5 separate regions of the Homo sapiens genome follow, and all the other regions are reported to be linked to region 1. Evidence: microRNA targets listed by miRTarBase, many of them from high-throughput screens and not tested one by one. Region 1 holds a microRNA gene; each other region holds the end of a gene's coding sequence.
Evidence for each region. The annotated mature microRNA hsa-miR-218-5p reads UUGUGCUUGAUCUAACCAUGU and lies in region 1 at 3,317-3,337, shown strand. An mRNA with a match to its seed (bases 2 to 7 or 8) in the 3' UTR can be bound and repressed. Matches are read on the target gene's strand: a 7mer-m8 pairs with bases 2 to 8, a 7mer-A1 pairs with bases 2 to 7 and ends in A, and an 8mer does both.

Region 2: the mRNA of MEIS2 is a reported target of hsa-miR-218-5p. The part of its 3' UTR that is shown has no 7-base or 8-base seed match.
Region 3: the mRNA of PUF60 is a reported target of hsa-miR-218-5p. The part of its 3' UTR that is shown has no 7-base or 8-base seed match.
Region 4: the mRNA of C1orf159 is a reported target of hsa-miR-218-5p. Seed matches in the 3' UTR shown: 7mer-A1 at 628-634.
Region 5: miRTarBase lists DNAJA4 as a target of hsa-miR-218-5p. Seed matches in the 3' UTR shown: 7mer-m8 at 3,900-3,906.

Annotation. Positions count from the first base shown.
Region 1 is chr5:168,766,424-168,771,547 of GRCh38, reverse strand. It overlaps MIR218-2 (microRNA 218-2), which reads left to right and starts at 3,293; the gene lies at 3,293-3,402. The region is part of intron 14 of SLIT3 (slit guidance ligand 3); the gene reads left to right.
Region 2 is chr15:36,887,374-36,892,497 of GRCh38, reverse strand. MEIS2 (Meis homeobox 2) reads left to right here. Exons shown (of 12, transcript NM_170675.5): 12 at 39-3,294. The coding sequence ends at 325. Among named protein-coding and RNA genes, the nearest start is that of MIR8063, 83 kb to the left of the region's middle.
Region 3 is chr8:143,812,398-143,817,397 of GRCh38, reverse strand. PUF60 (poly(U) binding splicing factor 60) reads left to right here. Exons shown (of 12, transcript NM_078480.3): 10 at 1-67; 11 at 253-488; 12 at 579-1,054. The coding sequence ends at 878. SCRIB (scribble planar cell polarity protein) reads left to right here and starts at 1,625. Exons shown (of 37, transcript NM_182706.5): 1 at 1,625-2,184; 2 at 3,280-3,397; 3 at 3,502-3,580; 4 at 3,672-3,761; 5 at 3,872-3,928; 6 at 4,024-4,087; 7 at 4,294-4,368; 8 at 4,437-4,581. The coding sequence starts at 2,026. It overlaps MIR937 (microRNA 937), which reads left to right and starts at 4,356; the gene lies at 4,356-4,441. RefSeq lists enhancers at 1,033-1,665, 1,666-2,298, 2,583-3,247.
Region 4 is chr1:1,078,328-1,083,451 of GRCh38, reverse strand. It overlaps C1orf159 (chromosome 1 open reading frame 159), which reads left to right. Exons shown (of 10, transcript NM_017891.5): 10 at 465-1,629. The coding sequence ends at 559. Among named protein-coding and RNA genes, the nearest start is that of RNF223, 6.6 kb to the right of the region's middle. RefSeq lists silencers at 1,352-1,531, 3,161-3,260, 3,321-3,400 and enhancers at 1,549-2,250, 2,251-2,953.
Region 5 is chr15:78,279,756-78,284,879 of GRCh38, reverse strand. It overlaps DNAJA4 (DnaJ heat shock protein family (Hsp40) member A4), which reads right to left. Exons shown (of 7, transcript NM_001130182.2): 6 at 4,735-4,835; 7 at 2,689-4,635. The coding sequence ends at 4,420. It overlaps SKIC8 (SKI8 subunit of superkiller complex), which reads left to right. Exons shown (of 11, transcript NM_025234.3): 11 at 1,359-1,645. The coding sequence ends at 1,448. Among named protein-coding and RNA genes, the nearest start is that of SKIC8, 17 kb to the left of the region's middle.

The sequences.
Region 1 (5,124 bases):
TTGCTTCTTCCAATGGTCCTGGGAAGTCAGTAGGAGAGCCCTTTGCTCTATAGGAGAGGGAACTGAGGACTTAGAGGTGAAGGGGCACTCCAAGTTCACAAGCCAGCAAACAGCGGAGGCAGGACTAAACCTCAGGTTCATTTTGGTCCTCACACCACACAGCATCTGGGAGAGAAGGAATATTTGGGGATGACAATCAGCTGCTTGGATGACCTCCTTCCCTGGTCTCATGCTCCCACCCCTACCCGCTCCCTGAACACTGTCCTCAGGTTCCTTCCTGGGCCTGGCAACATCTCTGGAAAGAAAATCTCACCCAAAGCACAATCGTCCTATCCCCAGCACCTTTCCTCATGACTCACGCCAACCTTGGCCTCTATTCCTACCCCTGTCTGGCCAGGGCTGAGTTAATTAGCTCTGCCAAACAGTGGTACCCAAAAAGAAGGACAGTGAGAGCCAGAGGAGGGCAGGGTATTATCTGCCAACCTTGACCCTTTGGTCTCATAAGTATCCTGTTAGTACTTTGGACCCCAAATGGATGTGGCGGCCCTGCGTGGCACAGCAGGGAAAGAGTGCAGGATCCAAGGACTGGTATCTCCCCAGGAACACAGTCTTGGCAATTTTCTGGGCATGACTGTGGTTGGGGGTGGCAAGGTGGGGGTGGGGCTATAGAAAGAACTAAGTAGGAGAAAAGGAAAATGGAAAGTGGACCTAGGAAGCAGTAGAGCTTAGTTCTAACTCTAGCTCTGCCACTATCGTCCTACCTGTAGATCTGCAGGATCCTGGCTGCTTTTCCTATGTGGGGGAGGGGAAGCTGAACATTTTAAAAAAGAAACAGGGAGAAGGAGCCAGGTTCTTGGATTGACTCTAAGATACCTTTTTTAAAAAAAAAAACAATGCTAAGCGAAAGATTATTCCTAAAAAGTAGAGATGTTTGGAGCTAGCATGAGACTGACACGTAGCACTCTATTTGCTTTTATTTTATGTCATTGCAAAGAAAGCATGACTGCTGAGCTCCAAAGGCCTTGGCTTTGAGAAACATGGGGTTCCAGACCTGCCTTGGCCTTGGAGGGAAAGAAAAACCATAGATGTAAAGCTCTGTGTTTCCAGGAAGCTCCAGAAGAAAGAAGGGGGGCAGGTGACACAGACTGGATGTGACAGATAATAACTCTGCGTTTTACTTTTTCCTAAAAGCACCCCCATTGAAAAGACAGCTGATGTAATTAGGAGGCAATTTGAGGGCTGCTCCGTAACACATCCTGCCCCTCCTTAGGCAGGGCGTCTGGTTTCCCAGCTGCCTGTGTCTGCCTCTCTCTATCAGCTGCATCCGCCGCCTTGGGCAGCAAGATCAGTTTAGGGTTGGATGCTGCCGGCTGGGGTAATCTGACCATCAGATTAAGTCCTCCTGAAAAGGCTCCGTCTGGCTGCCTGGGACCCCAAGCCCATCCCTGGGAGCACTTGGCAGTTGCAGGGTGCTGTCTGTCTTCCTTCATGCCTCCCCGCTTTGTGTGAGAAGAAACTCTCTTGCTGAAAAGTACAGAGGGTGGTGACGCAAAGTGTCCAAAGACGGCGAACAGCAAGATAGCTCTCAAGGAATTACAGAACTTTTAGAAACCTTAGAGGTCATCCAGTTTATTCTAGAGATGGATAAATTGAGGTCCACACAGCAGAAAAATCTTATCTAAGGTATTGAGTATTATTTTTAGGGCAAGATCTGAAACCCAGGACTTCTGACATACTGTGAAGACTCTTGATAATTTACCTACAAATCCCTCCATTTCTTTTTGTAGGAAGAAACCAAAGAGAAAGAAAATTAGATTTTAAGGCTTGGTGAGGGTGGCGGTTTGCACGAACAGGATGGATTTCCCCTGCTCTTGTACCAGGGTCCTAATCAAACTCACATTTGAAGTCCCAGAACCACAGTGTTCACAGAGCCCTGCATAGGTGTCAAAGCAGAGTGGAGTCCAGATTCTAGTGGCTGACTCTAGTGCGTGTGATGAGAGACCTTAGGAAGGAGGAGAGGCCAGACAGACCCAGAGCTGTGGGCTGGCTCTTCCTAACTGGTCCAACATGGCAGACAACCTATGCACCGTTGAGATGCTGAGACCATCTAGAGGATATGCCCAGTCCCAAAAACACATAGTGGAAGAATGTTGATACTGGTTCTCATGTCAGAGGTCAGGCAGGGAGGGTCTCAGTCACTTAGCCTTAGCTCCAGTTTCTTCAAGATGCACATCTCCAGCCTAATGCCAAGTGGGAGGAAGTCCCAAGTCAGCAGGTTCATGGAAACTGACCCTGATCTATCACAGAGAGGAATATAAAAACTGGGTACCCTCACCTGGGCCTTTGGCATCCTGACAGTGGTTATTGGTTCATCCTGTTCGCTCCCATAATTTCCAGCTAAGGAAGAGAACAAGAAATCAAGAAGGACCCCAGAATTCAGTGTCTTCCCCTCAGACTCATCACTTGGCTTCCCTTTCCTTCCTTCTCTTAGTCTCAAAGAGGCCCTTCATCAGGAGGCGCACTGGCCACCATCTCTGTGAAAGTCAGTGTTCTCAAACAACAACTATGATTGCAGGTTCCTCAGTCCAAACCCTACGGCCCCATTTGTTTTCCTGTCTTTCTCTCTGGCTAGAGAGATATATTTTCTTTTGACACCCCACTGCTCCTCTATTAAACCTCAAATGATCTGGGATGAGTGTCTATCAGCCAGAGCATTCCTGCTGACCTCAAAGGATATAAAGGAGACTCCTGAATTGTGGAATGTCAAAGGGGGCTTTTTCCTAAAGAACAGCATTGAAGGTTTGCTAGACCACTGGGAACTGTGGATTGTCTCTTGACTTAAGGGGCTAGAGGAATGACTGTGATGGAACCACTCAGCTGTTGGGGGGATTGGGCCTATGTTGCAAAGCATGCAGAAGATGCTTTTCTAAGTTTAATGTCTTGTCAGACCAACTGGTGTGACTGAATGGAGTTTAGAGGCTCAATTCAGGCATGTGATAGGATCACAGATGTCTGAGTGTTCTTTCTTTCCTTGGGAAGGAACCATGCTGTCCTGAAGCTCCCGAGTATGGGCATCCAGTGATTTCCCTCCCGTTCTTCTCCCTTCCTACTGTGTCTCCCTGGGGTGGGGCACAAGGGCAGCAGGGCTGCAATCTTCGGAAGTGTTCCAGTGGAACCCCACTCCTGATACTAATCACGCTCAGTGGGGGCCTGCTCCGGCTTCCGCTTCTCCACGCTGCTTCCTCTGAGCGCTCCTGTCCTCTCTCTGACGCTGCTTCCTGACCTTGACTCTGACCAGTCGCTGCGGGGCTTTCCTTTGTGCTTGATCTAACCATGTGGTGGAACGATGGAAACGGAACATGGTTCTGTCAAGCACCGCGGAAAGCACCGTGCTCTCCTGCAGCATGGCCCGCCACCGCCGCCACCACCGCTGGACACCTCTCCTCTGCTCTGGAGCACCGCAGCCCACCACCTGCCAGACCCACCTCTCCCAGTCTCAACTCACCAAAGGCAGGAGGGTAGGAGTCTCAAAGGATGCAGATACAGAGGGAAATGGGTCTGGAGAAGCACCCTGGGGAAAGAGATCTGTATCCACATCTCTTTCCCAAAATGGAGTCACCCTCCCCCAAATCTAGTCTGGATGTCAGACAAGGAGTAATAACTAGGTTCAAGCTCAGAAACTACTGTGTCTCTTCTTCCACTGGAAGGGAACAAGTATACCCAAGGCATACGCCCCATGGTTTCATGGGAGAGTCCCAACCCAAGGTCATTTTTCCAAGTGGCAGCTAACCCAAAGGGGAATTCCTACTGCTTGTGACCCCCGACCCCTCCCACCACCACCTTTATTGGTATTCACTTTATTTGAAATGAACGTCAGCATGAGAATGGGTGAAACTCATGTGAGTCTGAGACTTTGGGTTTAACCCAAGGTTCCTTCTGAACCTCATTCCCATACTTTATGAAAACACAGTCCCTGAACCCCATGAAACCTAAAGTCCAGTCTGTTTCCTTGACCTGCAAAGCACAGTTAACGTGGAGGTGCTGGGCTCCTCACCTGGTGCTAATTCTGTTTCAGGGGAGGGGAGTGTGTGTGGACGTGGAAACCTGCTATCTCTGATAATAAAGAGAGGGATCTTGGTACCTCTTATTTTGCTTGTTCCTTGATAAATCCTAGACCCAGTGTAACCAGAAGACTGTGTTGTTCATTCCTGTCCTGGAGTCTTTGTCCTATTCTGCAAGAGAGAGCTAAGGTGGGAACTTTAGCCTAGCTCAGAACTAGAAGCTGAGCCCTGGGCCCCCATCATGAGGTGTGACTCTTATTACCTCGTCTATCTGAGGTTACCCCTCAGAACCAGGAGCCCAACCATTGCTTAGTAGTTTTTTAACATACATTGAGTGCTTGCTATAGGCCAGGCAGTGAACTGTTTTCACATCATTACCTTGTTTAATGTTCACAAAATCTAAAGTCCCACTTTACAGATGAGGATATTGAGGCTCAGAGAGGTTAGCTAACTTACCCAGGGTCATCTGATTCCAGAATGGCTGCACTGTACTGCTGTAATACCCACCTTCCCAGCTGTGGACAACCCCATTGCCTTGAATTAGAACATTTAAAAACTGTGATTTGATAGGGACTTGAAATTTGCTTAAACTCTCCCTTTCAGACTTTCATCTGTTAGTAGAAAGAACTTGAGTAAGAGAGAAAGCATTATTCAAATGGCTGTTCCTCTCCAGCATGGACATACAAAGATCCCATTTAACACAGAGCAAATCCTCGAGCCTGGAGAAGTTCCCTTTCCCACCTTACAGAGAGGGGCATTCTGAGGCCCTCGGCACTGCCCCTAACATGGCAGGGACCAGGCCTCTGGGAGTGGGTCCATAATGGTGCCCTTCCATCAGTGCTTTACTGGCCCCGCAGCCACAGGCTGTGATGAGGCAGTGCCAGCCTCAGACCATGGGTATTTCCCTCTGTTTTCAGGCAGATGGCTGCACTCATAATAGACTCCAAAGGGGATAGCTTACTAGGACGGCTCCCTGCCCAACTGGTGACCAAACTCCTAGTAAAACAGTTGGCATCTTCCAGCCACTGGCAGCTGGTCCCCCAGCCTTGCCCATGAGTGGATG
Region 2 (5,124 bases), not on the chromosome of region 1:
GAATTTGACCCGCTTTCTTTTTCCCTCTCTATTTTCAGGTTTGCAGAGCATGCCAGGGGACTACGTTTCTCAGGGTGGTCCTATGGGAATGAGTATGGCACAGCCAAGTTACACTCCTCCCCAGATGACCCCACACCCTACTCAATTAAGACATGGACCCCCAATGCATTCATATTTGCCAAGCCATCCCCACCACCCAGCCATGATGATGCACGGAGGACCCCCTACCCACCCTGGAATGACTATGTCAGCACAGAGCCCCACAATGTTAAATTCTGTAGATCCCAATGTTGGCGGACAGGTTATGGACATTCATGCCCAATAGTATAAGGGAACTCAAGGGAAAAGGAAACACACGCAAAAACTATTTTAAGACTTTCTGAACTTTGACCAGATGTTGACACTTAATATGAAATTCCAGACAGCTGTGATTATTTTTTACTTTTGTCATTTTTCATCAAGCAACAGAGGACCAATGCAACAAGAACACAAATGTGAAATCATGGGCTGACTGAGACAATTCTGTCCATGTAAAGATCCTCTGGAAAAAGACTCCGAGAGTTATAACTACTGTAGTATAAATATAGGAACTAAGTTAAACTTGTACATTTCTGTTGATCACGCCGTTATGTTGCCTCAAATAGTTTTAGAAGAGAAAAAAAAATATATCCTTGTTTTCCACACTATGTGTGTTGTTCCCAAAAGAATGACTGTTTTGGTTCATCAGTGAATTCACCATCCAGGAGAGACTGTGGTATATATTTTAAACCTGTTGGGCCAATGAGAAAAGAACCACACTGGAGATCATGATGAACTTTTGGCTGAACCTCATCACTCGAACTCCAGCTTCAAGAATGTGTTTTCATGCCCGGCCTTTGTTCCTCCATAAATGTGTCCTTTAGTTTCAAACAGATCTTTATAGTTCGTGCTTCATAAGCCAATTCTTATTATTATTTTTGGGGGACTCTTCTTCAAAGAGCTTGCCAATGAAGATTTAAAGACAGAGCAGGAGCTTCTTCCAGGAGTTCTGAGCCTTGGTTGTGGACAAAACAATCTTAAGTTGGGCAGCTTTCCTCAACACAAAAAAAAGTTATTAATGGTCATTGAACCATAACTAGGACTTTATCAGAAACTCAAAGCTTGGGGGATAAAAAGGAGCAAGAGAATACTGTAACAAACTTCGTACAGAGTTCGGTCTATTAATTGTTTCATGTTAGATATTCTATGTGTTTACCTCAATTGAAAAAAAAAAGAATGTTTTTGCTAGTATCAGATCTGCTGTGGAATTGGTATTGTATGTCCATGAATTCTTCTTTTCTCAGCACGTGTTCCTCACTAGAAGAAAATGCTGTTACCTTTAAGCTTTGTCAAATTTACATTAAAATACTTGTATGAGGACTGTGACGTTATGTTAAAAAAAAAAAGGTGTTAAGTCACAAAAAGCGGTAATAAATATTTCATTTTTGATTTTTTGTTAGGCTTTTGCGTTTTTAATGGTTTTAGGACAAGACTGCACAATGCCAACTCTATACAGTGTTAAAAGTAGGTTTTTCCCCCCAGCAGTTGAGTATATTTTAAACTCATCAATAATTTTTAAGGTAATCATCTATAGCCTTTCAATGTCTATTTGACCTATAAGTTCCACCAGCAGAAAACTTCTAAAGGTACGAAACTATGTGTACATGATGAGCCAGGTTGAAAGATCCCCTTGAACATGCTCAACCTCCTTTTTAGATGCATGACGTTAAAAAATATATACTTTCAGATAAAGCTTTTCATGGGCATCCTCTGCCAGAATAAAGGACTTTTCAGGGTTAATTTTACAACATAAGAAATAATGTCTGTGCTCAAAGGTAATTTATCTGCCTGTGTTTTTCCTCTGCCTGTCTTACTACAATATTGTTGGATATGTAAATGAAAATTTACATATGGGTGTTCATAGATAAGTAAACAACTTCTATGGAGTTTGAAATTCTGACTTTAAAAGATTACTTAATCATTAATATTTTATAAATTATATTGTGGTATATTTTTATTTCAGACACATCCATGTGCAGGGATGCTAGTGTGATGATTTGATAACTAAACTTAAACTTTTTTCTGAAAACAAAACAAAACAAAATGGACGGTATAATGCCATTTTCAAAATTTTATGCAACATTCCTGGAAATCTATACCATTAGCTTATTGATACTGCACAAACAATGTCTGCTAAAGTGTGCAAAAAGGGTGAGGCATGTCCCCTCAATTTTCAAATAAATATACTATCCTGGAATTTTTTAACTCTTAAATTTTGAATCTTTGTTTAGAAAGAATAATGTCATATACTTTGGCTAGATATGTGATGTCAACCGGCTAAGGAAATTATTCATCATCTCTGCAAACTTAAACTTGGAAGAAATCCATAGTTATTATTTGGGGCTCTTCCATCTTTCCATTTCAGACAGCATTTATGGAGGTTCTATATAAATGAACGAGGAAATACACTTCTATTGTTTTGTGTTATATTTAGTCAGGTAGAATTTTTACAAATACATTTCAGTTTAAGTGTTGTGTTGCTGTTTAAACATAGAAATAATGCTTCTGACACAAACTAACTTAATAGAGAAATTCAGTGCCACTTGGGAAAGAGAGATAGCTTCCCTCTCATTTTTGCTATTCTATTTTACATGAAGTCTTTTTGTAAATTTTAAATATTTGCCTATTTTTACTTTAAATACTTTTATGTAAACTATGAAAATTCCCCATTATAAATCAACTCTCACATCAGGTGGGAAAAAGAACCTTTTTTTCTTTCCACTCAGTAAATTCTGAAGGGTTTCCTTGGCAATTGGCTCGTGTTTAGGATGTGTTTTATGCAATTATCAAGTTATCTCATTGAAGTTTAGAGACCAGAGCTCTCAACTCTTGGTTTTAATGAATAAAGTCATCTCATGCTTAGTTTATTCGTCAAACCCACGTCCTATCATGTTAACTTTAACCTTCTTAAATATTTGGAGATGAATGATAATTGTAATATTTGTTTGCATTACCTTGCTCTCCCCCACCCCCAACCCCATGATAACACAGAGAAGTGATAGATTTGTCCAATTTTTATAATGCTTTTTTTACACCACCCCGGAAGGCACTTGCTCCTATCTCGGGTTTACTATTTAGTGTAAAGAGTTCCGATTTGGGTATATTTAAGAAAGACTCAGCTGTCAAAAGCAAAGAAACTGGGAATGGTGTTTTGACAACCATATAGTGTTAAAGGAAATACTGTAGTCTGAATAAAATTGCTTATGTTCTCCAAAACAAGAGTAATATAAAAACACTTTTTTATTTATATGAAAAAGCAAAAGCAGAAATAAATTCCAAAGGTTTCCCTTTCTTTAAGAAATTCTGAGAGAACTGCAGTCGCCATCTGTTAAGGGTTGGGAATTGAGCAAGAAGCCACATTTTAAACGAAAAAGAGAGAAAAGACCAGGAAAGTCTGTGTCTTCCGTCCACCCCTCCTCTCTTCCACCCCCTAGGTCAGCACCCCTCACGCCCCTCAGCTCTCACCCTCGTTAGAGTCCACCAGGATCCTCCTGCCTCCTCACCCCCTCCCGCCCCCGCGGGCCTGTTAACCCGGAGCAGATTTGGGAAGGGAAATGTGGCTAATATCTCTAGCAGCTGTCAAAGGAGGGACCTTCCTTCAAAGGGACTGGACAGGGATCCTCCACAAGTTCTCCATTAGCTAGCAGGCCAGCAATTTGATAAGGAGCCTGGACCTCCGCTACAAGTTGCCACTCAGTTAGAAAGTCCGGTGTCCGGGTGTCTGGATGCGCGGAGTGACCCCAGCTTCGCGGCCGCAGCCCCCGCCGCCCACCCAGCGGGGTTGGTGCAGACGTGCGTCCTGGAGCCTAGGAGGAGGCAGGACAGAGGCTTGGGCCGCGGCAGAGGGGCGTGCAGAGGGCTACCCTGGCCCTCACCTGGCCTTCCCTGGGCGCGTGTGTTAGAGTTAGACCAACGTATTGCAAACTATGGGGGCACGGGGGGCCCGTCCCAGTTACAGTTGCAGTCATCAACTCAGGGCGTCGCGCGCCGGGGCGGGCCCCCTCCGTCGGGGCCGGGGCTGGGAGAAAGTGCCGCGCGGGGGAAATGCTGGTCTGATGGGGGAGGCCGGTCAGATTGTGATGAGAATGGAGACCGTCGGGGCAGTGTTTGAAGGGAGGTTTTAATATTAATAGTTTCGGTGTAGAGACAGAAGGGAGATTGCGTCTACGGCTCCTCCGGGCAGACTCTGGGTGACAGGAATGATGGATGATCCGGCAGAGCCCAACAGCTCCTCCCCCCCCAGCCCCAACAGTGTCAAAGCTACTTTAGTTGAAGCTTTAGAAATAAACAGCATCGCCACCCCCCCATACTCTTAGTACACCTCCACCCTCTCCCCCCGCTTTCCGACATCGATTTATGGATCATTATGAATCAATTACTGCCCTCAATACCTTCCCATTGGCTTAAATAAAACAGTTGAAAGATGAAAACGTGGGGTTCTGTGGAGATTTTTTTCCCTGACAAGAACAATCGCAAAATCCATTATCTCATAATCCGAGGCGCTGGGTGAGGAGGTGAAGAGAAAGGACGGGGTCACCCAGTAAATAACTGGGGGGAACGCAGGAAGGGGGGTGTCGCCCAGATGCTGCCTTTGTTTTCTTTCAGATGGGTTTGGTTGGTTGGTTTGTTTGGTGTTTGGGGAGCGGGGTAAACTCGCGTGAGAATTAGATGCCTACAAGTTTTGTGACCTAATTATTTAACTCCTTTGGAGAGACCCCTTTGAATATGTGTCTCGTCAAACATCAGATGTTGTTGGTAGTGAGGTCACACATGGGAAAAGGTGTGGAGGAATGGGTCCGTCTGGAGGGCGGATTTTCACTTTGTTGTGAGCAACTGTGCGCGGGAGGGTTGGCCGCCGGGTGGGGAGACCGTCCCTCTCCCCTCGCCCCCCGCCGCTGGCTGTTTTTGTCGTTGGAACTGGTTTGGATCTGGGGCTGGCCGTCCCCTTTCGCCCCCACCCCCACCTCGGCCGCCCGAGGCTTTTCTTCCCTCTCCTGCCTCTTCCGCGGCGGGGCTCGAGGTTCTCTAGGTGTTTCTATGACTACA
Region 3 (5,000 bases), not on the chromosome of region 1:
CTGGCCCAGCCCCTGGGCACTTTGCCCCAGGCTGTCATGGCTGCCCAGGCACCTGGAGTCATCACAGGTGAGTCTTAAGTGGTACCAGATCCTCTCCTCTCCTGTCCTGGCATCTCTCGGCTCGCTGCCCTCAGCTGCCTGGCCCTGGTGGTCTGGGCACAACCCTCTGAGCCCAGGGCAGGCCAGCTCTGTGCCTTTCTGGGAAGGGGGGTGGTAGGGAGTGACTGATGGACCTGGTTGGTTTTCCTGCAGGTGTGACCCCAGCCCGTCCTCCTATCCCGGTCACCATCCCCTCGGTGGGAGTGGTGAACCCCATCCTGGCCAGCCCTCCAACGCTGGGTCTCCTGGAGCCCAAGAAGGAGAAGGAAGAAGAGGAGCTGTTTCCCGAGTCAGAGCGGCCAGAGATGCTGAGCGAGCAGGAGCACATGAGCATCTCGGGCAGTAGCGCCCGACACATGGTGATGCAGAAGCTGCTCCGCAAGCAGGAGGTAGGCAGAGGGGCAGGGTGGTGGCGGGGGAGAGGGTAGGGGGGCGGGGCCGCAGTGCTCAGCTGTCTTCCCCTCGGCCCTGCCCCACAGTCTACAGTGATGGTTCTGCGCAACATGGTGGACCCCAAGGACATCGATGATGACCTGGAAGGGGAGGTGACAGAGGAGTGTGGCAAGTTCGGGGCCGTGAACCGCGTCATCATCTACCAAGAGAAACAAGGCGAGGAGGAGGATGCAGAAATCATTGTCAAGATCTTTGTGGAGTTTTCCATAGCCTCTGAGACTCATAAGGCCATCCAGGCCCTCAATGGCCGCTGGTTTGCTGGCCGCAAGGTGGTGGCTGAAGTGTACGACCAGGAGCGTTTTGATAACAGTGACCTCTCTGCGTGACAGTGGTCCCTCTCCCCGGACTTGCACTTGTTCCTTGTTTCCTCTGGGTTTTATAGTGATACAGTGGTGTCCCCGGGGCCAGGCGCGCTCTGCCCAGCCCAGCCTACAGTGCGGATAAAGGTGCGGATGCTGCTGGCCCTGAACGTCCGTGTGTCTGCCGTCGGTCCTGTCACCGATCCTGGGCGTGTGTCCTTAGGGGGTCTAGGGCGAGGAGGCAGGGTTGGGGGGGTCTCTGGACCTGCTTCCTGTTGGCAGGAGGGGCCTGCCGTGGGCGAGACCTGGGCAGGGGGTTGGCGCCCCGGGCCCCGTCCCGCGGGTGGCGGCGGCTGGGTGGGCGGGGCTGCCTGGGGCGCCAGGCTCTCGCGCGCGGGCTCGCAGCCGTCCCCGCAGGGTGGTGCTGAGAGAAGGCTGGGCACCGGGACACCGCGACCCGCTGGACAGCGCGCGCTGCCAGTGCTTTTGTGCCGCAGAGCCGGCCGTCCAAGGCGGGCGGGCGGGCATGGTCGCTTCCCGGGAGGAGGCTGTGCGTTAAGATTCGTGGCCAAATGCCGCGGGGCCAGGGGCCGGGCTGAAGACCGGAGGGCGGAGGGCGCCGCCTCTCGTGGATTGTAGCTCCCAATATCCCGCGCGCGGGGCGGGCCCGGCTTCCCGGCACGCTTTGCGCGGTGCCGCTACGGGTCCTCAGAGGCGGCGGCGCGCGGGGCCTTCTGGGGGCCGCAGTCCGGGCGTGCTAGGCGGCGAGGGCCGGACTCGGCTTCCCGACGGGCTGCGCGGCGGCCGGGTGGGTGTCGGCGGGGCAGTCCGGCGGGCAGCGGCGGTTCCGGTGCGGCACAGCGGGCGGACGAGCGGGCGGGACGAGCTGAGCAGGACCAAGCGGGATGCGGAGCCGCCGCCGCCGCCGCTCCCCGCGCTTCCTAAGAGTCTGAGACCCGCCGGGCCGCGCCCCCTGCCCAGGCCCGCAGTCCGAGCGTTCCGAGCGCGGGCCGGGCCCAGCGCCGGCCGCGGCCGCGTCCCCGTCCAGTCTCGGGCGGCCCGCCCCCTGCCTGCGCCCCCTCCCCATGCGCGGCGCCCATGCGGACTGAGCCCCGCCCCCCGGCCCCGAGCCCGCCGAGCGCCGCCGCCGGAGCCCGCGCCGCCCACCCGCACCATGCTCAAGTGCATCCCGCTGTGGCGCTGCAACCGGCACGTGGAGTCGGTGGACAAGCGGCACTGTTCGCTGCAGGCCGTGCCGGAGGAGATCTACCGCTACAGCCGCAGCCTGGAGGAGCTGCTGCTCGACGCCAACCAGCTGCGCGAGCTGCCCAAGGTGAGCGGCCGCCCGCACCTGCCGCCCAAAGGCGCGCCCCCAGCCCGTGATTCCTCCGGCGGCAGAATCTGCCCGGGCGAGTCACCGCAGCCTCCAGCCGGCCCTGCTGGTTTGCACTGGCCAGGTCCCCACCCCAGCCAGCCCCACCCTTCTCTTCCAGCCGCCCTGGCTGGCGCAGGTGGCAGCGGTCATCAGGTGCTTGCCTGGGGATAGCGATTGTCACCGAGCCTGGAGGCGGAGCCTCAGAGTGAAACCCGTGGGGATTCAGGGAGGTGGATGGGGTTAGGGTGGAACTTGGATTCAGGTGGCTGATGAGTACTAGCTTCTTGGGCCGCTCTGGAGGTGGGTCCAGACCTCCTCTCCTTTTTTGCTGGGTGCAGGGGTGAGTGGGGGAGCCCTCTTGATGTACTCTTTGCTCTCGGATCTGTTCGCTGTCCCCCTTTCTTTACCCTTGCTTCTCGTGGTCAGGTGCTCTCCTAAGGCTGCTACAAGAAAGGAGGCTGGAGAAAGCAGATTAAAAAGTATTTCTTTTCTGGAGATGGGGTGCTGGGTGATCAGTACCTAGGGGTTGGGTGTCCCAAAGAATGTGACCCTGTTCTGGCCGTGGCAGTGACAGCTCGGTCCTCTGTGGCCACCTGCAGGCCTCGCGCGTAGCACTGTGCCTGTGGTACTGTGTTATTGTGGGGAGCGTTTACTGAGTTCTTGCTGCAGAACCAGGCCAGGCTTGTTGTCAGGATGCAGTAGCAGAGGCCAGTGTGGGCCCCTGGAGGGTGGCAGAAGTGGTTCAGGGGCTGGGTGGGCCCTGAGGTAAGACACAGGGTAGGGGATTGGGGCTTTGTCTGGTCGCCAGCAGGTGTCTTCTCAGAGTGGAGGCTGGTGTGAAGAGTAGAGGGAGGCAGCCACAGTGGGCGTGTGTACCGTGTGTTTCTTTCCTTTTTTTGCAAATGGGGTGTCGTGGTTAGACCCCAGGACCCGGTGTGACCTGGAGCAGACAGAGGCCTAGGGACTCTTGACTTGTGACACTCACGTGTCCAGGAGCTCTTCTCTGCTCTGCAGTGGTCTCTGCCACAGAGTCCGTGTCCTCCCTGCCCACAGCCTTTTTTCCGGCTGCTGAACTTGCGCAAGCTGGGCCTGAGCGACAACGAGATCCAGCGGTTGCCTCCCGAGGTGGCCAACTTCATGCAGCTGGTGGAGCTGGACGTGTCCCGGAACGGTGGGGAGCCTGGGCAGGGGCTGGGTGGGGTCTGGGGAGTGTCCGCTGGGGCTGCAGACGGCCTGCAGGCCATGGCATCTGTCCACTGTGACCCTCTGTGACAGATATCCCTGAGATCCCGGAGAGCATCAAGTTCTGCAAGGCTCTGGAGATCGCGGACTTCAGCGGGAACCCCCTCTCCAGGTGGGTGGCAGCCTGTGGTGGGGTCGGTAGGGGCTATGGGTCCCACAGCCCTGGACTGGTCATCCGAGGGCCTCTGCTTCCTCCCATCCAGGCTCCCTGATGGCTTCACTCAGCTGCGCAGCCTGGCTCACCTGGCCCTGAATGATGTGTCTCTGCAGGCACTGCCCGGGGACGTGGGCAAGTGAGTGCCTTCTCAGGTGGAACTAGGGTGGGGTGGGGGACCAGGATTGGCCCTGCCCCTGCTGCCACTGCTTTCCTTCCTCTTGCCCCAGCGCCTGGTCTCTCTTTCAGCCTCGCCAACCTGGTGACCCTGGAGCTCCGGGAGAACCTGCTCAAGTCCCTGCCAGCGTGAGTGTGACAGGCATTCTCCTAACAGCCAGGGCAGGGCCACAGCCCAGGGACCAGGGCTGCGTGGCCACACCTCCACCCTGCTTCCTCTGCAGGTCCCTGTCATTTCTGGTCAAGCTGGAACAGCTGGATCTGGGAGGCAACGATCTGGAAGTGCTGGTGCGTGGAGGCCTGACAGGGCAGAGACCGGAGGGCGGGCCACGGAAGCAAGGGCAAAGAAGGGGACAGCGAGCAGATCCGACAGCAAGGGGCACCTCGGGAGGGCAGGCGGGTGGGAGCTGGGTGTGGGGGCGTATAGTCTCTTGAGCACGGCGCAGCAGGAGGCTTTGCCTCATAGTCACTATTTTCTCTGTTCCTTCTTGCAGCCAGACACTCTGGGGGCTCTGCCCAATCTTCGGGAGCTGTGGCTTGACCGGAACCAGCTGTCAGCACTGCCCCCGGTGAGTCAGGGTGGGGCTGGCCCCCTGCTTCGTGCCCATCCGCGCTCTGACTCTCTGCCCACCTGCAGGAGCTCGGGAACCTGCGGCGCCTGGTGTGCCTGGACGTGTCGGAAAACCGGCTGGAGGAGCTGCCTGCTGAGCTCGGCGGGCTGGTGCTGCTCACTGACCTGCTGCTGTCCCAGAACCTGCTGCGGAGGCTGCCCGACGGCATCGGTTAGTGTGCCTGGGGGTGCCTGGGTGGGGCACACGGAGCCTGGCCCTGGGAGGAGCGTGGGGCGTCGGGGCTGTGTGTGGTGTGGAACACAGGGGAGGATCCTGAGTGTGCCCAGGCTCTGGGAGCTGTCCCTGGGGAGGGGAGGTGGGACCCTGGGGCAGCCCAGAAGGCTGAGGAGGCAGCTGGTGGTGCTGGAGGGGGCGGTGGAGTCTGTGAGGGCGGAAGGGTGGCAGTGCCACTGGGGCCTGGTGTTTTCTTGAAGGAGGTTGGGTCAGGCTTGTGGGGCAAGGTAGGTAGGGTCCTCCCGAAGTACGGCGGCGGCAGAAGGGGCTGGGGGCCTTGCTGTCTGCCTTGAGGGCGCTTCTGGCCAGGTGGGTAAGGCACGTCTGGGGACCATGCTCAGCCTTGTCCCCCTGTC
Region 4 (5,124 bases), not on the chromosome of region 1:
TCTCTCTCAGGTGGGCCCTGGCCGTTGTTTCAGGGCCTGCCCGGGGAACCCTGGGCGATCACACCTGAGACCCTGACGTAACCCCCTGCAAAGCCCCTTCTTCTAAATAAGGTCACATTCGAGGTCTTGGGACTACGGCCTGCTTGTCGCCCCCTGAGGTGCATGATACTCTGGGACCCACATCTCTGTCTTCGGGGATCGCCTGGCCCTTGTCCAGGCCCCGGGGCCCAGGGTGTAAATGAGAGGACACAGCCGGGCAGGAGGAAGCCGTCCCTTTCCCGAGCTGGAGCTCTGAGGGCGCCTTAGGGGCAGGGGGCATCTGGGTTCCCACCTGGTCAGAGTAAACAGCCCCGGGCGCCTGTGCCATATGCCCACTCCCGAGAGCCTCCGGTGAGGGCTGAGGCCTGCACTGTCCCTGCTGTCCAGGTCCCACTCTGACCTCGCCTGTCTCTGACCCGTTTCAGTACGGAAGCCGCGCTACGTCAGGCGGGAGCGGCCCCTGGACAGGGCCACGGATCCCGCTGCCTTCCCGGGGGAGGCCCGTATCAGCAATGTCTGACCTGGAGGCCGAGACCACGCCACGCACTTGGCGGCAGGGACCCGGAGGCCGACCCCTTGGCGGGAACCAGCACAAAGTGTTGGCATCGCCCGGCGCCCGGGACAGTCCTGGGCACAGCCTCGGCTCTGAGTCCCTCCGCCTCCCAGCGACGGACGCCAAAGGGTCCCGGGCCGCCTGAGGCTCCTCCCCACCACAGCCATCTCGTTTATCGGACCAGGAGCAGGCATCCATGAGACCTCAGAGCTTCAGATCGAGGCCTTGGGGGGTCCGGGCCCCCCCAGGAAACACGGTGAGGCCCCAGCGCCTGCAGCCAAAGCTGGCACGATCTATGGGGCAGGTGCCGCTCTGCCTAGAAAAGCCAGGGGCTCTGCTGCCGTGCCCTCCAGAGCCCACAGCGGGCAGGACTCCTCCAGCACCACCACACCCAGTGGCCCGAGACCCCTCTGAGAACAGTGAGGCTGGTCCTCGTGCCGTTCCAGCCGGTGCCCGGCCAGTGGGGAGGACACAGCCTAGGAACCAGCTGCCTGAGACCAGGGTGCCTCTGGGCTGTCCTCCCGCGTGGCGGAGACCCCAAGCACGCAGCCACCCATTTCCGGAGCTGCAGGATAGAGCTTCCTCTTGATCTCTGTTTTTAAGCAGAAATTCATTGTGCAGAAAAGTCCTCCAGAGCTCTGTGGCCCCGCTCGGATCCGCTGGACCCCCATGCCTGGCTGATCCCTGCCCACGTGGGGCAGGCCCACATCTAACCCCCACAAGTCACTGCCTCACTGCACCTGCCAAGGCTGCCCTGGCGCTGAGTCCTGGGGTCCCTCCCGGAGTTCCTGGGAGAAAGGCGCCGTCGTGGCCGCCTCCCGCACGCCAGGCCCGGGCTCCACCGTGGGTCTCAGACGCCCTGCGGCACCGGCACCGTCTGCTTTAGCATGGGACCCCCCTCTGAGGGGTGGCCTGGCCTTCGGGGTCCCCACGCTCCTTTGCGAAGTCCACTGTGGGTGCCATCATGGTCTCCGGGACCTGGGCCAGCGGGAACGTGGGGGCACTGGGTGTGCTGATATAAAGTCGGCATTACTCAAGCTGCGTTCCGAGCTGCTCTCTCCCGTAGGATGCTCTGTTCTCTAAGTGCAGGTCGGGGAGCAAAGCCCCCGCCAGGCTGGCCCCACGCACTCCGCCACCGTGTGCTGGGGGCAAGGAGGTGGGACGGGGGTGGAGGAGAGTCCAGGTTGGGGCTGCCTGGTTGGGACCCCCCGCCCCGCGCCGCACATTTTCTGCCACAGGCCCATTCCCCAGATGCAACCTGTGCAGGTGGGACCTGTGGTCCCCGAACCCCCAGCTCGGAGTGAGGTGGGACAGAGTGTGGGTGTGCGTTTCCATCGGCCGGCCGGGCTGCGTGGGGGCTGCAGACACGGGCCCCGGGAGGGCTGCCATGGCCATCTGGGGGGGCAGCAGTGTGGGGGTGTTTGCTGACAGTGATGGGCCTGGCCAGAGAGGGCTGAGCTGGGGCAGGACAGGCCTTGAGGGCAGAGGGCCCGGGCACCAGGATGCCAGAGCGCGGGCCCTGCTCTCGTAACCGTGCCCTCCACCCAGGCAGAAACGTCCACTGCCTGGAGGGTCGTGTCCTTAGACACCTGCATCCCTGTCCCCAAAAACCCCCAGCCTGAGGTTTGCAGCCAGGGAGTATCTGGGGGAGCATTGGCTCTGCCCTGGGCCCTGGCCCAAGAAGTGTCCTGGGGCTGGGAGGGTCACTGGTCCTGGGGAGAAAGGGAGGGACTGGACAGCCCAAGGCCACTCTGAGCCCAGTACCCACCGCCCCACCTGATGCCCTGGGCCACGCCCCTGTGACGCGGGAGCCCCCAGACTCCTCCTGTGGGGAAGGAGACAGGGACCGAGATGGGAGCAGAGGGAAGGAGACAGGGACCGAGGTGGGGGCGGAGGGAAGGAGACAGGGACCGAGGTGGGGGCGGAGGGAAGGAGACAGGGACCGAGGTGGGGGCGGAGGGAAGGAGACAGGGACCGAGGTGGGGGCGGAGGGAAGGAGACAGGGACCGAGGTGGGGGCGGAGGGAAGGAGACAGGGACCGAGGTGGGGGCGGAGGGAAGGAGACAGGGACCGAGGTGGGGGCGGAGGGAAGGAGACAGGGACCGAGGTGGGGGCGGAGGGAAGGAGACAGGGACCGAGGTGGGGGCGGAGGGAAGGAGACAGGGACCGAGGTGGGGGCGGAGGGAAGGAGACAGGGACCGAGGTGGGGGTGGAGGGAAGGAGTCCACATCCCCCTGGAAACTCCACTCCTGCATTTGCACCAGGCTGGGCGTCTGGTTTGGAGGATAAAATCGGAAACAGGCACGAACAGCAGGTCCAGCCAGGCAGGGTCTGGAGGCCAGGCCAGACACAGACAGGCACCTCCCAGCCCACCCTCTGAGCAGCCCCCCAGGCCCCATCTCTCAATTCTGGGTCCCCTCCTCCTCCTCCCACCCAGTGGCCCAAACCAAAAACCCAGGGTCATCCTGACACCTCCACATATCCCCCTCAGCTGGCTCCCCACGTCCCCCACCTGCGCACTCGCGATTGGCCCTTGGGCAGCACGTGGTCAGCCAGGACCTGTGGCAGCGAGGGGCACGCCCTCCTCACTGGGCACAGGAGGGACACACTGAGCTGGGCCTAGGGGCGGCCCCAGCACGTCAGGGGCAAAGCTAGACCCAAGTGCACGTCCCGGAGCCCTGCTCCCCCGCACCGGCCTCCCCTCTGCACATCTGGGCCCTTGGGAAAGAATTCCAGTCCCACGGCCAACAGAGCCGCTGCATTTGAGGCAATGGCCCAGCACGGGGCGGGGCGGGGTGGGGCGAGGCCGGGGGCCCCACAGCAGCCTGGAAGGCCCCTCCCCGCACCGGCCGCACCACGTCCCCAGGCCTGGCAGTGCCAGGTGTGACCCGTAACCGAGGCCTGGAGGGGAAGGAGTCCCTGAGAGGGCGTGAGGAGACCGAGTGAAGGAGGTGAGGGGTCAGGTGCTCACACCAGCATCCATGTCTCAAGCATGGGCACGTGTGCTCACACACGCCCACACGCTCACCAGCCCAGCCTCCCGCCCACTGGCTGCGACGGAGGGGACCAGGCGGGCCCACCCCCTGCCCTGGAATCTGCCAGCCAAGCTGCTCTGAGCCTCCCGAGAGCCCTGAGAGACCGTCTGAGCTGAGAGAAGGGGAGCTGCTGGCTCCTCTCCTGCACAGGGAGGCCTGGCCTGGCGCCGAGACCACACATTCCTCCGGCCTTTCCTCACCTTTGCCTCCGGCACGAGTGTCAGCCGGGAGCCCAGAGTGACCTCAGTGCCAGGATATTCCCAGGAGCTGTCGGGAGGACGTTCCCAGAGCTGCAGGGGCCAGGGTGCTTCCTGGAGGCGGCATGTGACCCGAGTCACGGACCTCAGGAAGCAGGAGCCTCCGACGAGTGCTTTCAGGGCCTCACAGCGGCCCTGCACAGAGTCCCCATAGCCTCAGCCTCCCCCCACGGAGTCCCCATAGCCTCAGCCTCCCCCCACGGAGTCCCCATAGCCTCAGCCTCCCGGCACGGAGTCCCCATAGCCTCAGCCTCCCCCCACGGAGTCCCCATAGCCTCAGCCACCCCCCACGGAGTCCCCATAGCCTCAGCCTCCCCCCACGGAGTCCCCATAGCCTCAGCCACCCCCCACGGAGTCCCCATAGCCTCAGCCTCCCCCCACGGAGTCCCCATAGCCTCAGCCTCCCGGCACGGAGTCCCCATAGCCTCAGCCTCCCGGCACGGAGTCCCCATAGCCTCAGCCTCCCCCCACGGAGTCCCCATAGCCTCAGCCTCCCCCCACGGAGTCCCCATAGCCTCAGCCTCCCCCCACGGAGTCCCCATAGCCTCAGCCTCCCCGCACGGAGTCCCCATAGCCTCAGCCTCCCCCCACGGAGTCCCCATAGCCTCAGCCACCCCGCACGGAGTCCCCATAGCCTCAGCCTCCCCGCACGGAGTCCCCATAGCCTCAGCCTCCCCCCACGGAGTCCCCATAGCCTCAGCCTCCCGGCACGGAGTCCCCATAGCCTCAGCCACCCCTCACGGAGTCCCCATAGCCTCAGCCTCCCCCCACGGAGTCCCCATAGCCTCAGCCTCCCCCCACGGAGTGCCCATAGCCTCAGCCTCCCCCCACGGAGTCCCCATAGCCTCAGCCTCCCCCCACGGAGTCCCCATAGCCTCAGCCTCCCGGCACGGAGTCCCCATAGCCTCAGCCTCCCCCCACGGAGTCCCCATAGCCTCAGCCTCCCCCCACGGAGTCCCCATAGCCTCAGCCTCCCCCCACGGAGTCCCCATAGCCTCAGCCTCCCCCCACGGAGTCCCCATAGCCTCAGCCTCCCCCCACGGAGTCCCCATAGCCTCAGCCTCCCCCCACGGAGTCCCCATAGCCTCAGCCTCCCCCCACGGAGTCCCCATAGCCTCAGCCTCCCCCCACGGAGTCCCCATAGCCTCAGCCTCCCCCCACGGAGTCCCCATAGCCTCAGCCTCCCCCCACGGAGTCCCCATAGCCTCAGCCTCCCCCCACGGAGTCCCCATAGCCTCAG
Region 5 (5,124 bases), not on the chromosome of region 1:
CAATCATCGCTTGTCATTTTTGGGACTGTCCAAAGAAGAGATGTGATTTTTTTTTTTTTAATATAGTAGAAGCTGGAAATTCATACAAGTTTTTTGGCTTTAGTGTTATTGATAACTTTTCAGTCTTTAAAAGGAAACTGTTCTCACAAGCAACTTTATCTTTGCCAAGGTGAATATGTGAAATAGCAAAGGTGTTCTAGTGCAATACTGCTGAGTCTTTCATGTGTGCTCGTATCCCCTGGGAACCTGGTGAAAATGCAGATGCTGCTTCACTAGGTCTGGCAGAGGGCCTGGGATTCTGCATTTCTAACAGGCTTCCAGGTGAGGCCAAGGCTGCTGGTCCTAACCACACTGTAAGGTCTTGGGGAACTGAGCATAAAAAATAAAATGTCCATGGCAATATAATATTGGCTTTTAATATATTTTAAATATTTTTAGATGGTCCTATAGATTTCTCCTCTTTGAAATGGAACTTAAAGTTAACTAACATTGTTCATGCTTATTTTTCAACTTAAATTGTCCCAACAAAATTGAGGGGGTTCTATCTTGATATTCCACTTCTGGATTTAAGCATCTTACTCAGGGAGTAAGTCCTGGCTAGCTGTGTTTCCTTGTATGTATGGATCATTGCGGTGCTGTGTCAGAGGCTGGAGTGAAAGGCCATCATGCAGCCCAATCCCAACACTAAAATCAGAGTAGGGTGACAGGCTTACCACCCAGAATCACCTCCTAATAATCAGGAAGTTATTTATGATTAGAGAAACTCCAACCACATCAATTCTGTCTGGGAAGGAGGTGTGAATCAGTTAATTTAACACATAGCAAATAAAAATCTATGGTCCACAATATCATGTTGTCTAGCTCCTGGGGACAGGCAGGCTCCATAGGCCACTAATAACAGAGTGAGAATTACTGACTGTGGGGGGCGGACACAAGGGGTCAGCTGAGGAGCGCAGTTTGTGACTTTCCCTATAGGCAGTGACCTCGGGGTAGTTGTGGGGCTCTTTCTTCCTGGAAGCATAAATGTTGGTCTCTTATGGCTTCCGTCTTCCTGGCATTAGGTTACACTTCAGGATTCTGACTCTTTGAAAGGGTTGTAGATAGTCTTGATTAGTACTGTATTTAAAAATGATTTTTTTTTTTTTTTTTGGAGTATGGGAAGGGGCAGGAATTCTAATTAAATAGCAATAATGGAAGGTGCTCGGTTAAAGCCTCCATTCTCACTGATTTAGAAAGTACAAGAACATCCTCATCTCAGTTTTGGTAGATTCAGAATAACGAGAAAATAAGGATGTTCATTTCATAAATATTATAAAGAATAAAGGCATTTGTAGAACTATCTTTTTTTAAATTTACAGGTCTGGGGAGTAAAATACAATGGAAATGGTTCAAAAATTGTGTCTGTTGGAGATGACCAGGAAATTCACATCTATGATTGTCCAATTTAAACATCAAAGTCTCCAGGCTTATGCTGCAAAGAGAATGTACGGATTGATCATGACATTCCTTACCTTCTTAGGCTTGTTTAAAAGAAATATAGCATTTATTGTAGCAAAGACTTAAATTTTGTAGATACAATATGAATCTTTTCATGTTTTATTGGAAATGCTGTTCATACTTTAACATAAAGCTTTCTTAATGCAAACACTGGTGTCCTTGAACATGCTTCTTTTTTCAGTTACCCTATTACCAGTGAAACAGTGAGAGGGATTGGCATTAAGAGCAAATCTCTGCCTTAGCCATCAAGAGATCCAGGTATTTCTTTAACTTTCCAGCTTAGAAATACAGGCTGACTCTTCCAGGGAGTTGACTTATGCAGTGAGATACAGCAGCGAGCTCCCCGGAGCTGTGATAAAGAAGCTAATCTATTTTAGAATGGAGTCCTGAAGGAAAGAGTATATTTGACTGCATAGGAACATTATGTACTCCTGTCTATCTGGGCATCCTTCCACTTGATGTATTAAAGATGTCCCCTGCCAAGCCCTCCTTCCCCTTATTAATTTCAGAGAGGTCTCTAACTCGCTAGGTGGGTATCGGAAGGCAGGCTGCTATTCTTGCTGCCTTAACAATGCCTAGGCTGAAGCCTGTGCCTCATGCTGTAGAACTGTAGCCCTGCCTTAGTTATTTCAGAGTATCTGTACCTCAGAGTTTCCTCTTCATCAGCCCCCTTGAGACTCATGTTAATGAGAAAGATGTAAGTAGCTGAACACTTGGAAGCGTGTTTTTTATTGATCATTACTTCATATGCTTATGAGTCAGGTCATGTGCTTTTCCTCAAACCACTCACTGCCCTCAGAATAAAGCTCACACTCTTTATCATAGCCCCCCACTTCTCCCTCCTGCTTGCCTTGCTCACCCTCCTGTAACCACATCATCCTTGCCATTCCTCTGCCTGGAATGTTTTCCCTCCAGACCTTCGGACATCTGCTCCCCAGCTGCATCCAGGATTCTGCCCAGATGCCAGCTCCTGGTAGAGGCCTTCTTCCCATTCCCTTCTACTCATTCCCATTCCTCTTGTTCTTCATAGCAGTTACCACTTTTTGTTTGCATTCACCCCCACCCCCAAAATAAAGCTCCATGAGGGTGGAAACTTCATTCCATTATGTCAACCAATGAGAGGCAAGCTGGCAGGCACCTAACACTGTTTATGTGAGCTCTCAAAAAAAGGAAAAAGCAAAGCCACTTATCTCTCATACCAGCTCAATTTTAATTTTAAAGTGACAAATGTACAGGTGGAATAAAATTTTAAGCGACACCCTCCAAATTCCTTTTATATGACAAGAAGGAGCTGAATGTAATTTTACACCATTACCAACTAAACAGTAGTTCTTTAGCAATAATTAGGAAGTCACAGCACAAAAACGACACCCCAGAGTTGTGGTCCATTTATAAATAGATTTTCACCTAGGCTTCGTTGGAAGAAGTGATTTTATATCTATCCTCACCAATGGTCAAAGTGGGCACAGGTGGGCTGTTTCTATACTTTGAGCAAATTATGCCTCACTAGCTGGCAATGTTTTGCGGGAACCTGGTCCGTGCAGCTGGTTCACCTTACCTGCATGGTCTGATCTGCACTTTGACCCTCCTAAGGAAGATCCCTGGTCTGAGTGAAACTCTCAGGTGCCATGTAACCAAATAAGGGTAGGGTAGATCTGACAGGTGGCCTCTGCTTTAACCCAGCAGCTTACAAGTTTTTTGTGACTTGGGGAAAAGAAATAAGCAGTAATGGCTAAAGACTGAGGTAACCCTAAGTTCGAATTGTAGTCTACCTGTCATGAATAAAATAATGACTAATATCCCTCCAAACAAGCTATAATTTACAGTAGTAGTCCATACAAACTGTAATCCACAGTGGAACTCAGCGAAGTTCTTACCAAAACATCACTTGAGCAGGAAACCCTTTGTAATATGGCTGTGCAATGAGAGGAACGATCCTTTGGAAGGGAGCTCAATCTGGGAGAATGAGGTGGAAAACACTGGGGAGTTCTATGCCTTTGCAGACCCTCAAGTCACCCCGGATTACTGGTCAGAGAAGCTGGCTGTGCCATGGGCCAAACCAGCAGCATTCTCCCTTGGCTTCTGTTGCTGCACTGAGGCTGCCGGGGACACAGAAGGATTTAGTTTTCTTTACAAGTAAGCACTTTGGTGGGAAAGCATTGCAAAAGTTGTCAACAGAAAATCATTAAAACCCTGAAGAACAAGGTGTGAGGGTCACAGGCAAACAGTTATCAGCATATGATTCAAACACTGGTTTGTCCTCACCACAGAGCTTGGAAGGTTCAGAAAACTTCCAAGAGAGATGATCAGACACTCACGTTCCATCCACTGAAGGGCACAGAACAGTAGGAACTAAGTTGGCCCTGTTAAGCAGGCACATGCAGCCATGTCCGATCCACGGATGTGCTTTTATTCTTTAAGAGGATCATCTAGAATCCTCAGAAATGTTATCTTAGCAGCCCTGAGATCATGCCCTCAATAACTCTGCCAAGGGAAGAGGGGAGAAACCACAGACCTAGAGATGAGTCAGGATGCCCACTTTGTGCCTTGGGGTTTGCTAGGGGGGCTAAGCTGCTAACTGGGCTGTGCCTTATTGGTGACACTGAATTATGGCAAAGCCACTAGAAGCACAAAGTATTGGTGCAATCACTGACATCTCAAAAGTATATCCTGAAAATAGAAATGAACAGATTCCATATGCAGACTAGAGGTGATTTATACTTAAAACATTTAAATATAAATTAAGCTATAACTTAAGTTACAACCAAAAGAAAAGCCAAAAAGACACTCAGCAATTAAGAATGCTGAACACATACACAGGACATCCCAAACACAAGGCCATTAAAGCGATGTCATTTTCATTGTGCCAACTTTACATTCATCATGTGCTAGTCCGGTGGGGCCACGCTGCCCCGCACCACGTCATGCCGTCTGGCACTGCACTCCAGCCTGGGGCCCGTCTTCGTCCTCCTCGTAGGCCTCCCTGTGCTGACGCCAGTTCTGCTCATTGGGACAAAACTCCTTCAGCTCCACCTGATCCATGTCATCTGTAATCCTCACTTTCTGTCGAGGAGGGAGTAAAGCTTCCAGCTGAGGAAGCTTTTCCAGAGAAAGCCAGTGTTTTTCAGGAAAGATTACCTGTAAAGGGTGAGGTGGGAAAGAAAGGTGGCTGTTTTTTCCCCTTCCAATTAAGGCATTTAATAATATGTCCATGACAATGAAACATAGTGAACTTACTAAAAACTGTATGATCAGAATCCCTTTTTCCAGGGGTGCTTTGTAGATGGGCATTCCTTCATCGCGCACGCATCTCAGGTCCCCGTGCTTTATCACCTCACCTGCCAGAGAAAGGGTCAATTAGGAAGGAGGAAGGCAGAGGGGCCTGCAGAGGTCGTTCTCCCTCATGGGAGAGCCTGCGGCAGGCCCTAGTGCCCCGTGGCAGTGGGCAAAGGAAACGTGGCATCTGACTGGAAAGCTGGCCCCAATCCCAGGTATCCTTGTCAGGTACTGCCTGGGGAAGGGGCTCAGGCTGAGACTCTGGCCTGTGCTCTGGGCTCCAGCAGTGTGTCAAGAGGGCAGCATGGTGCAGCTGCCATCACAGGTAGGTTTAAAACAAGTGAACTAGAA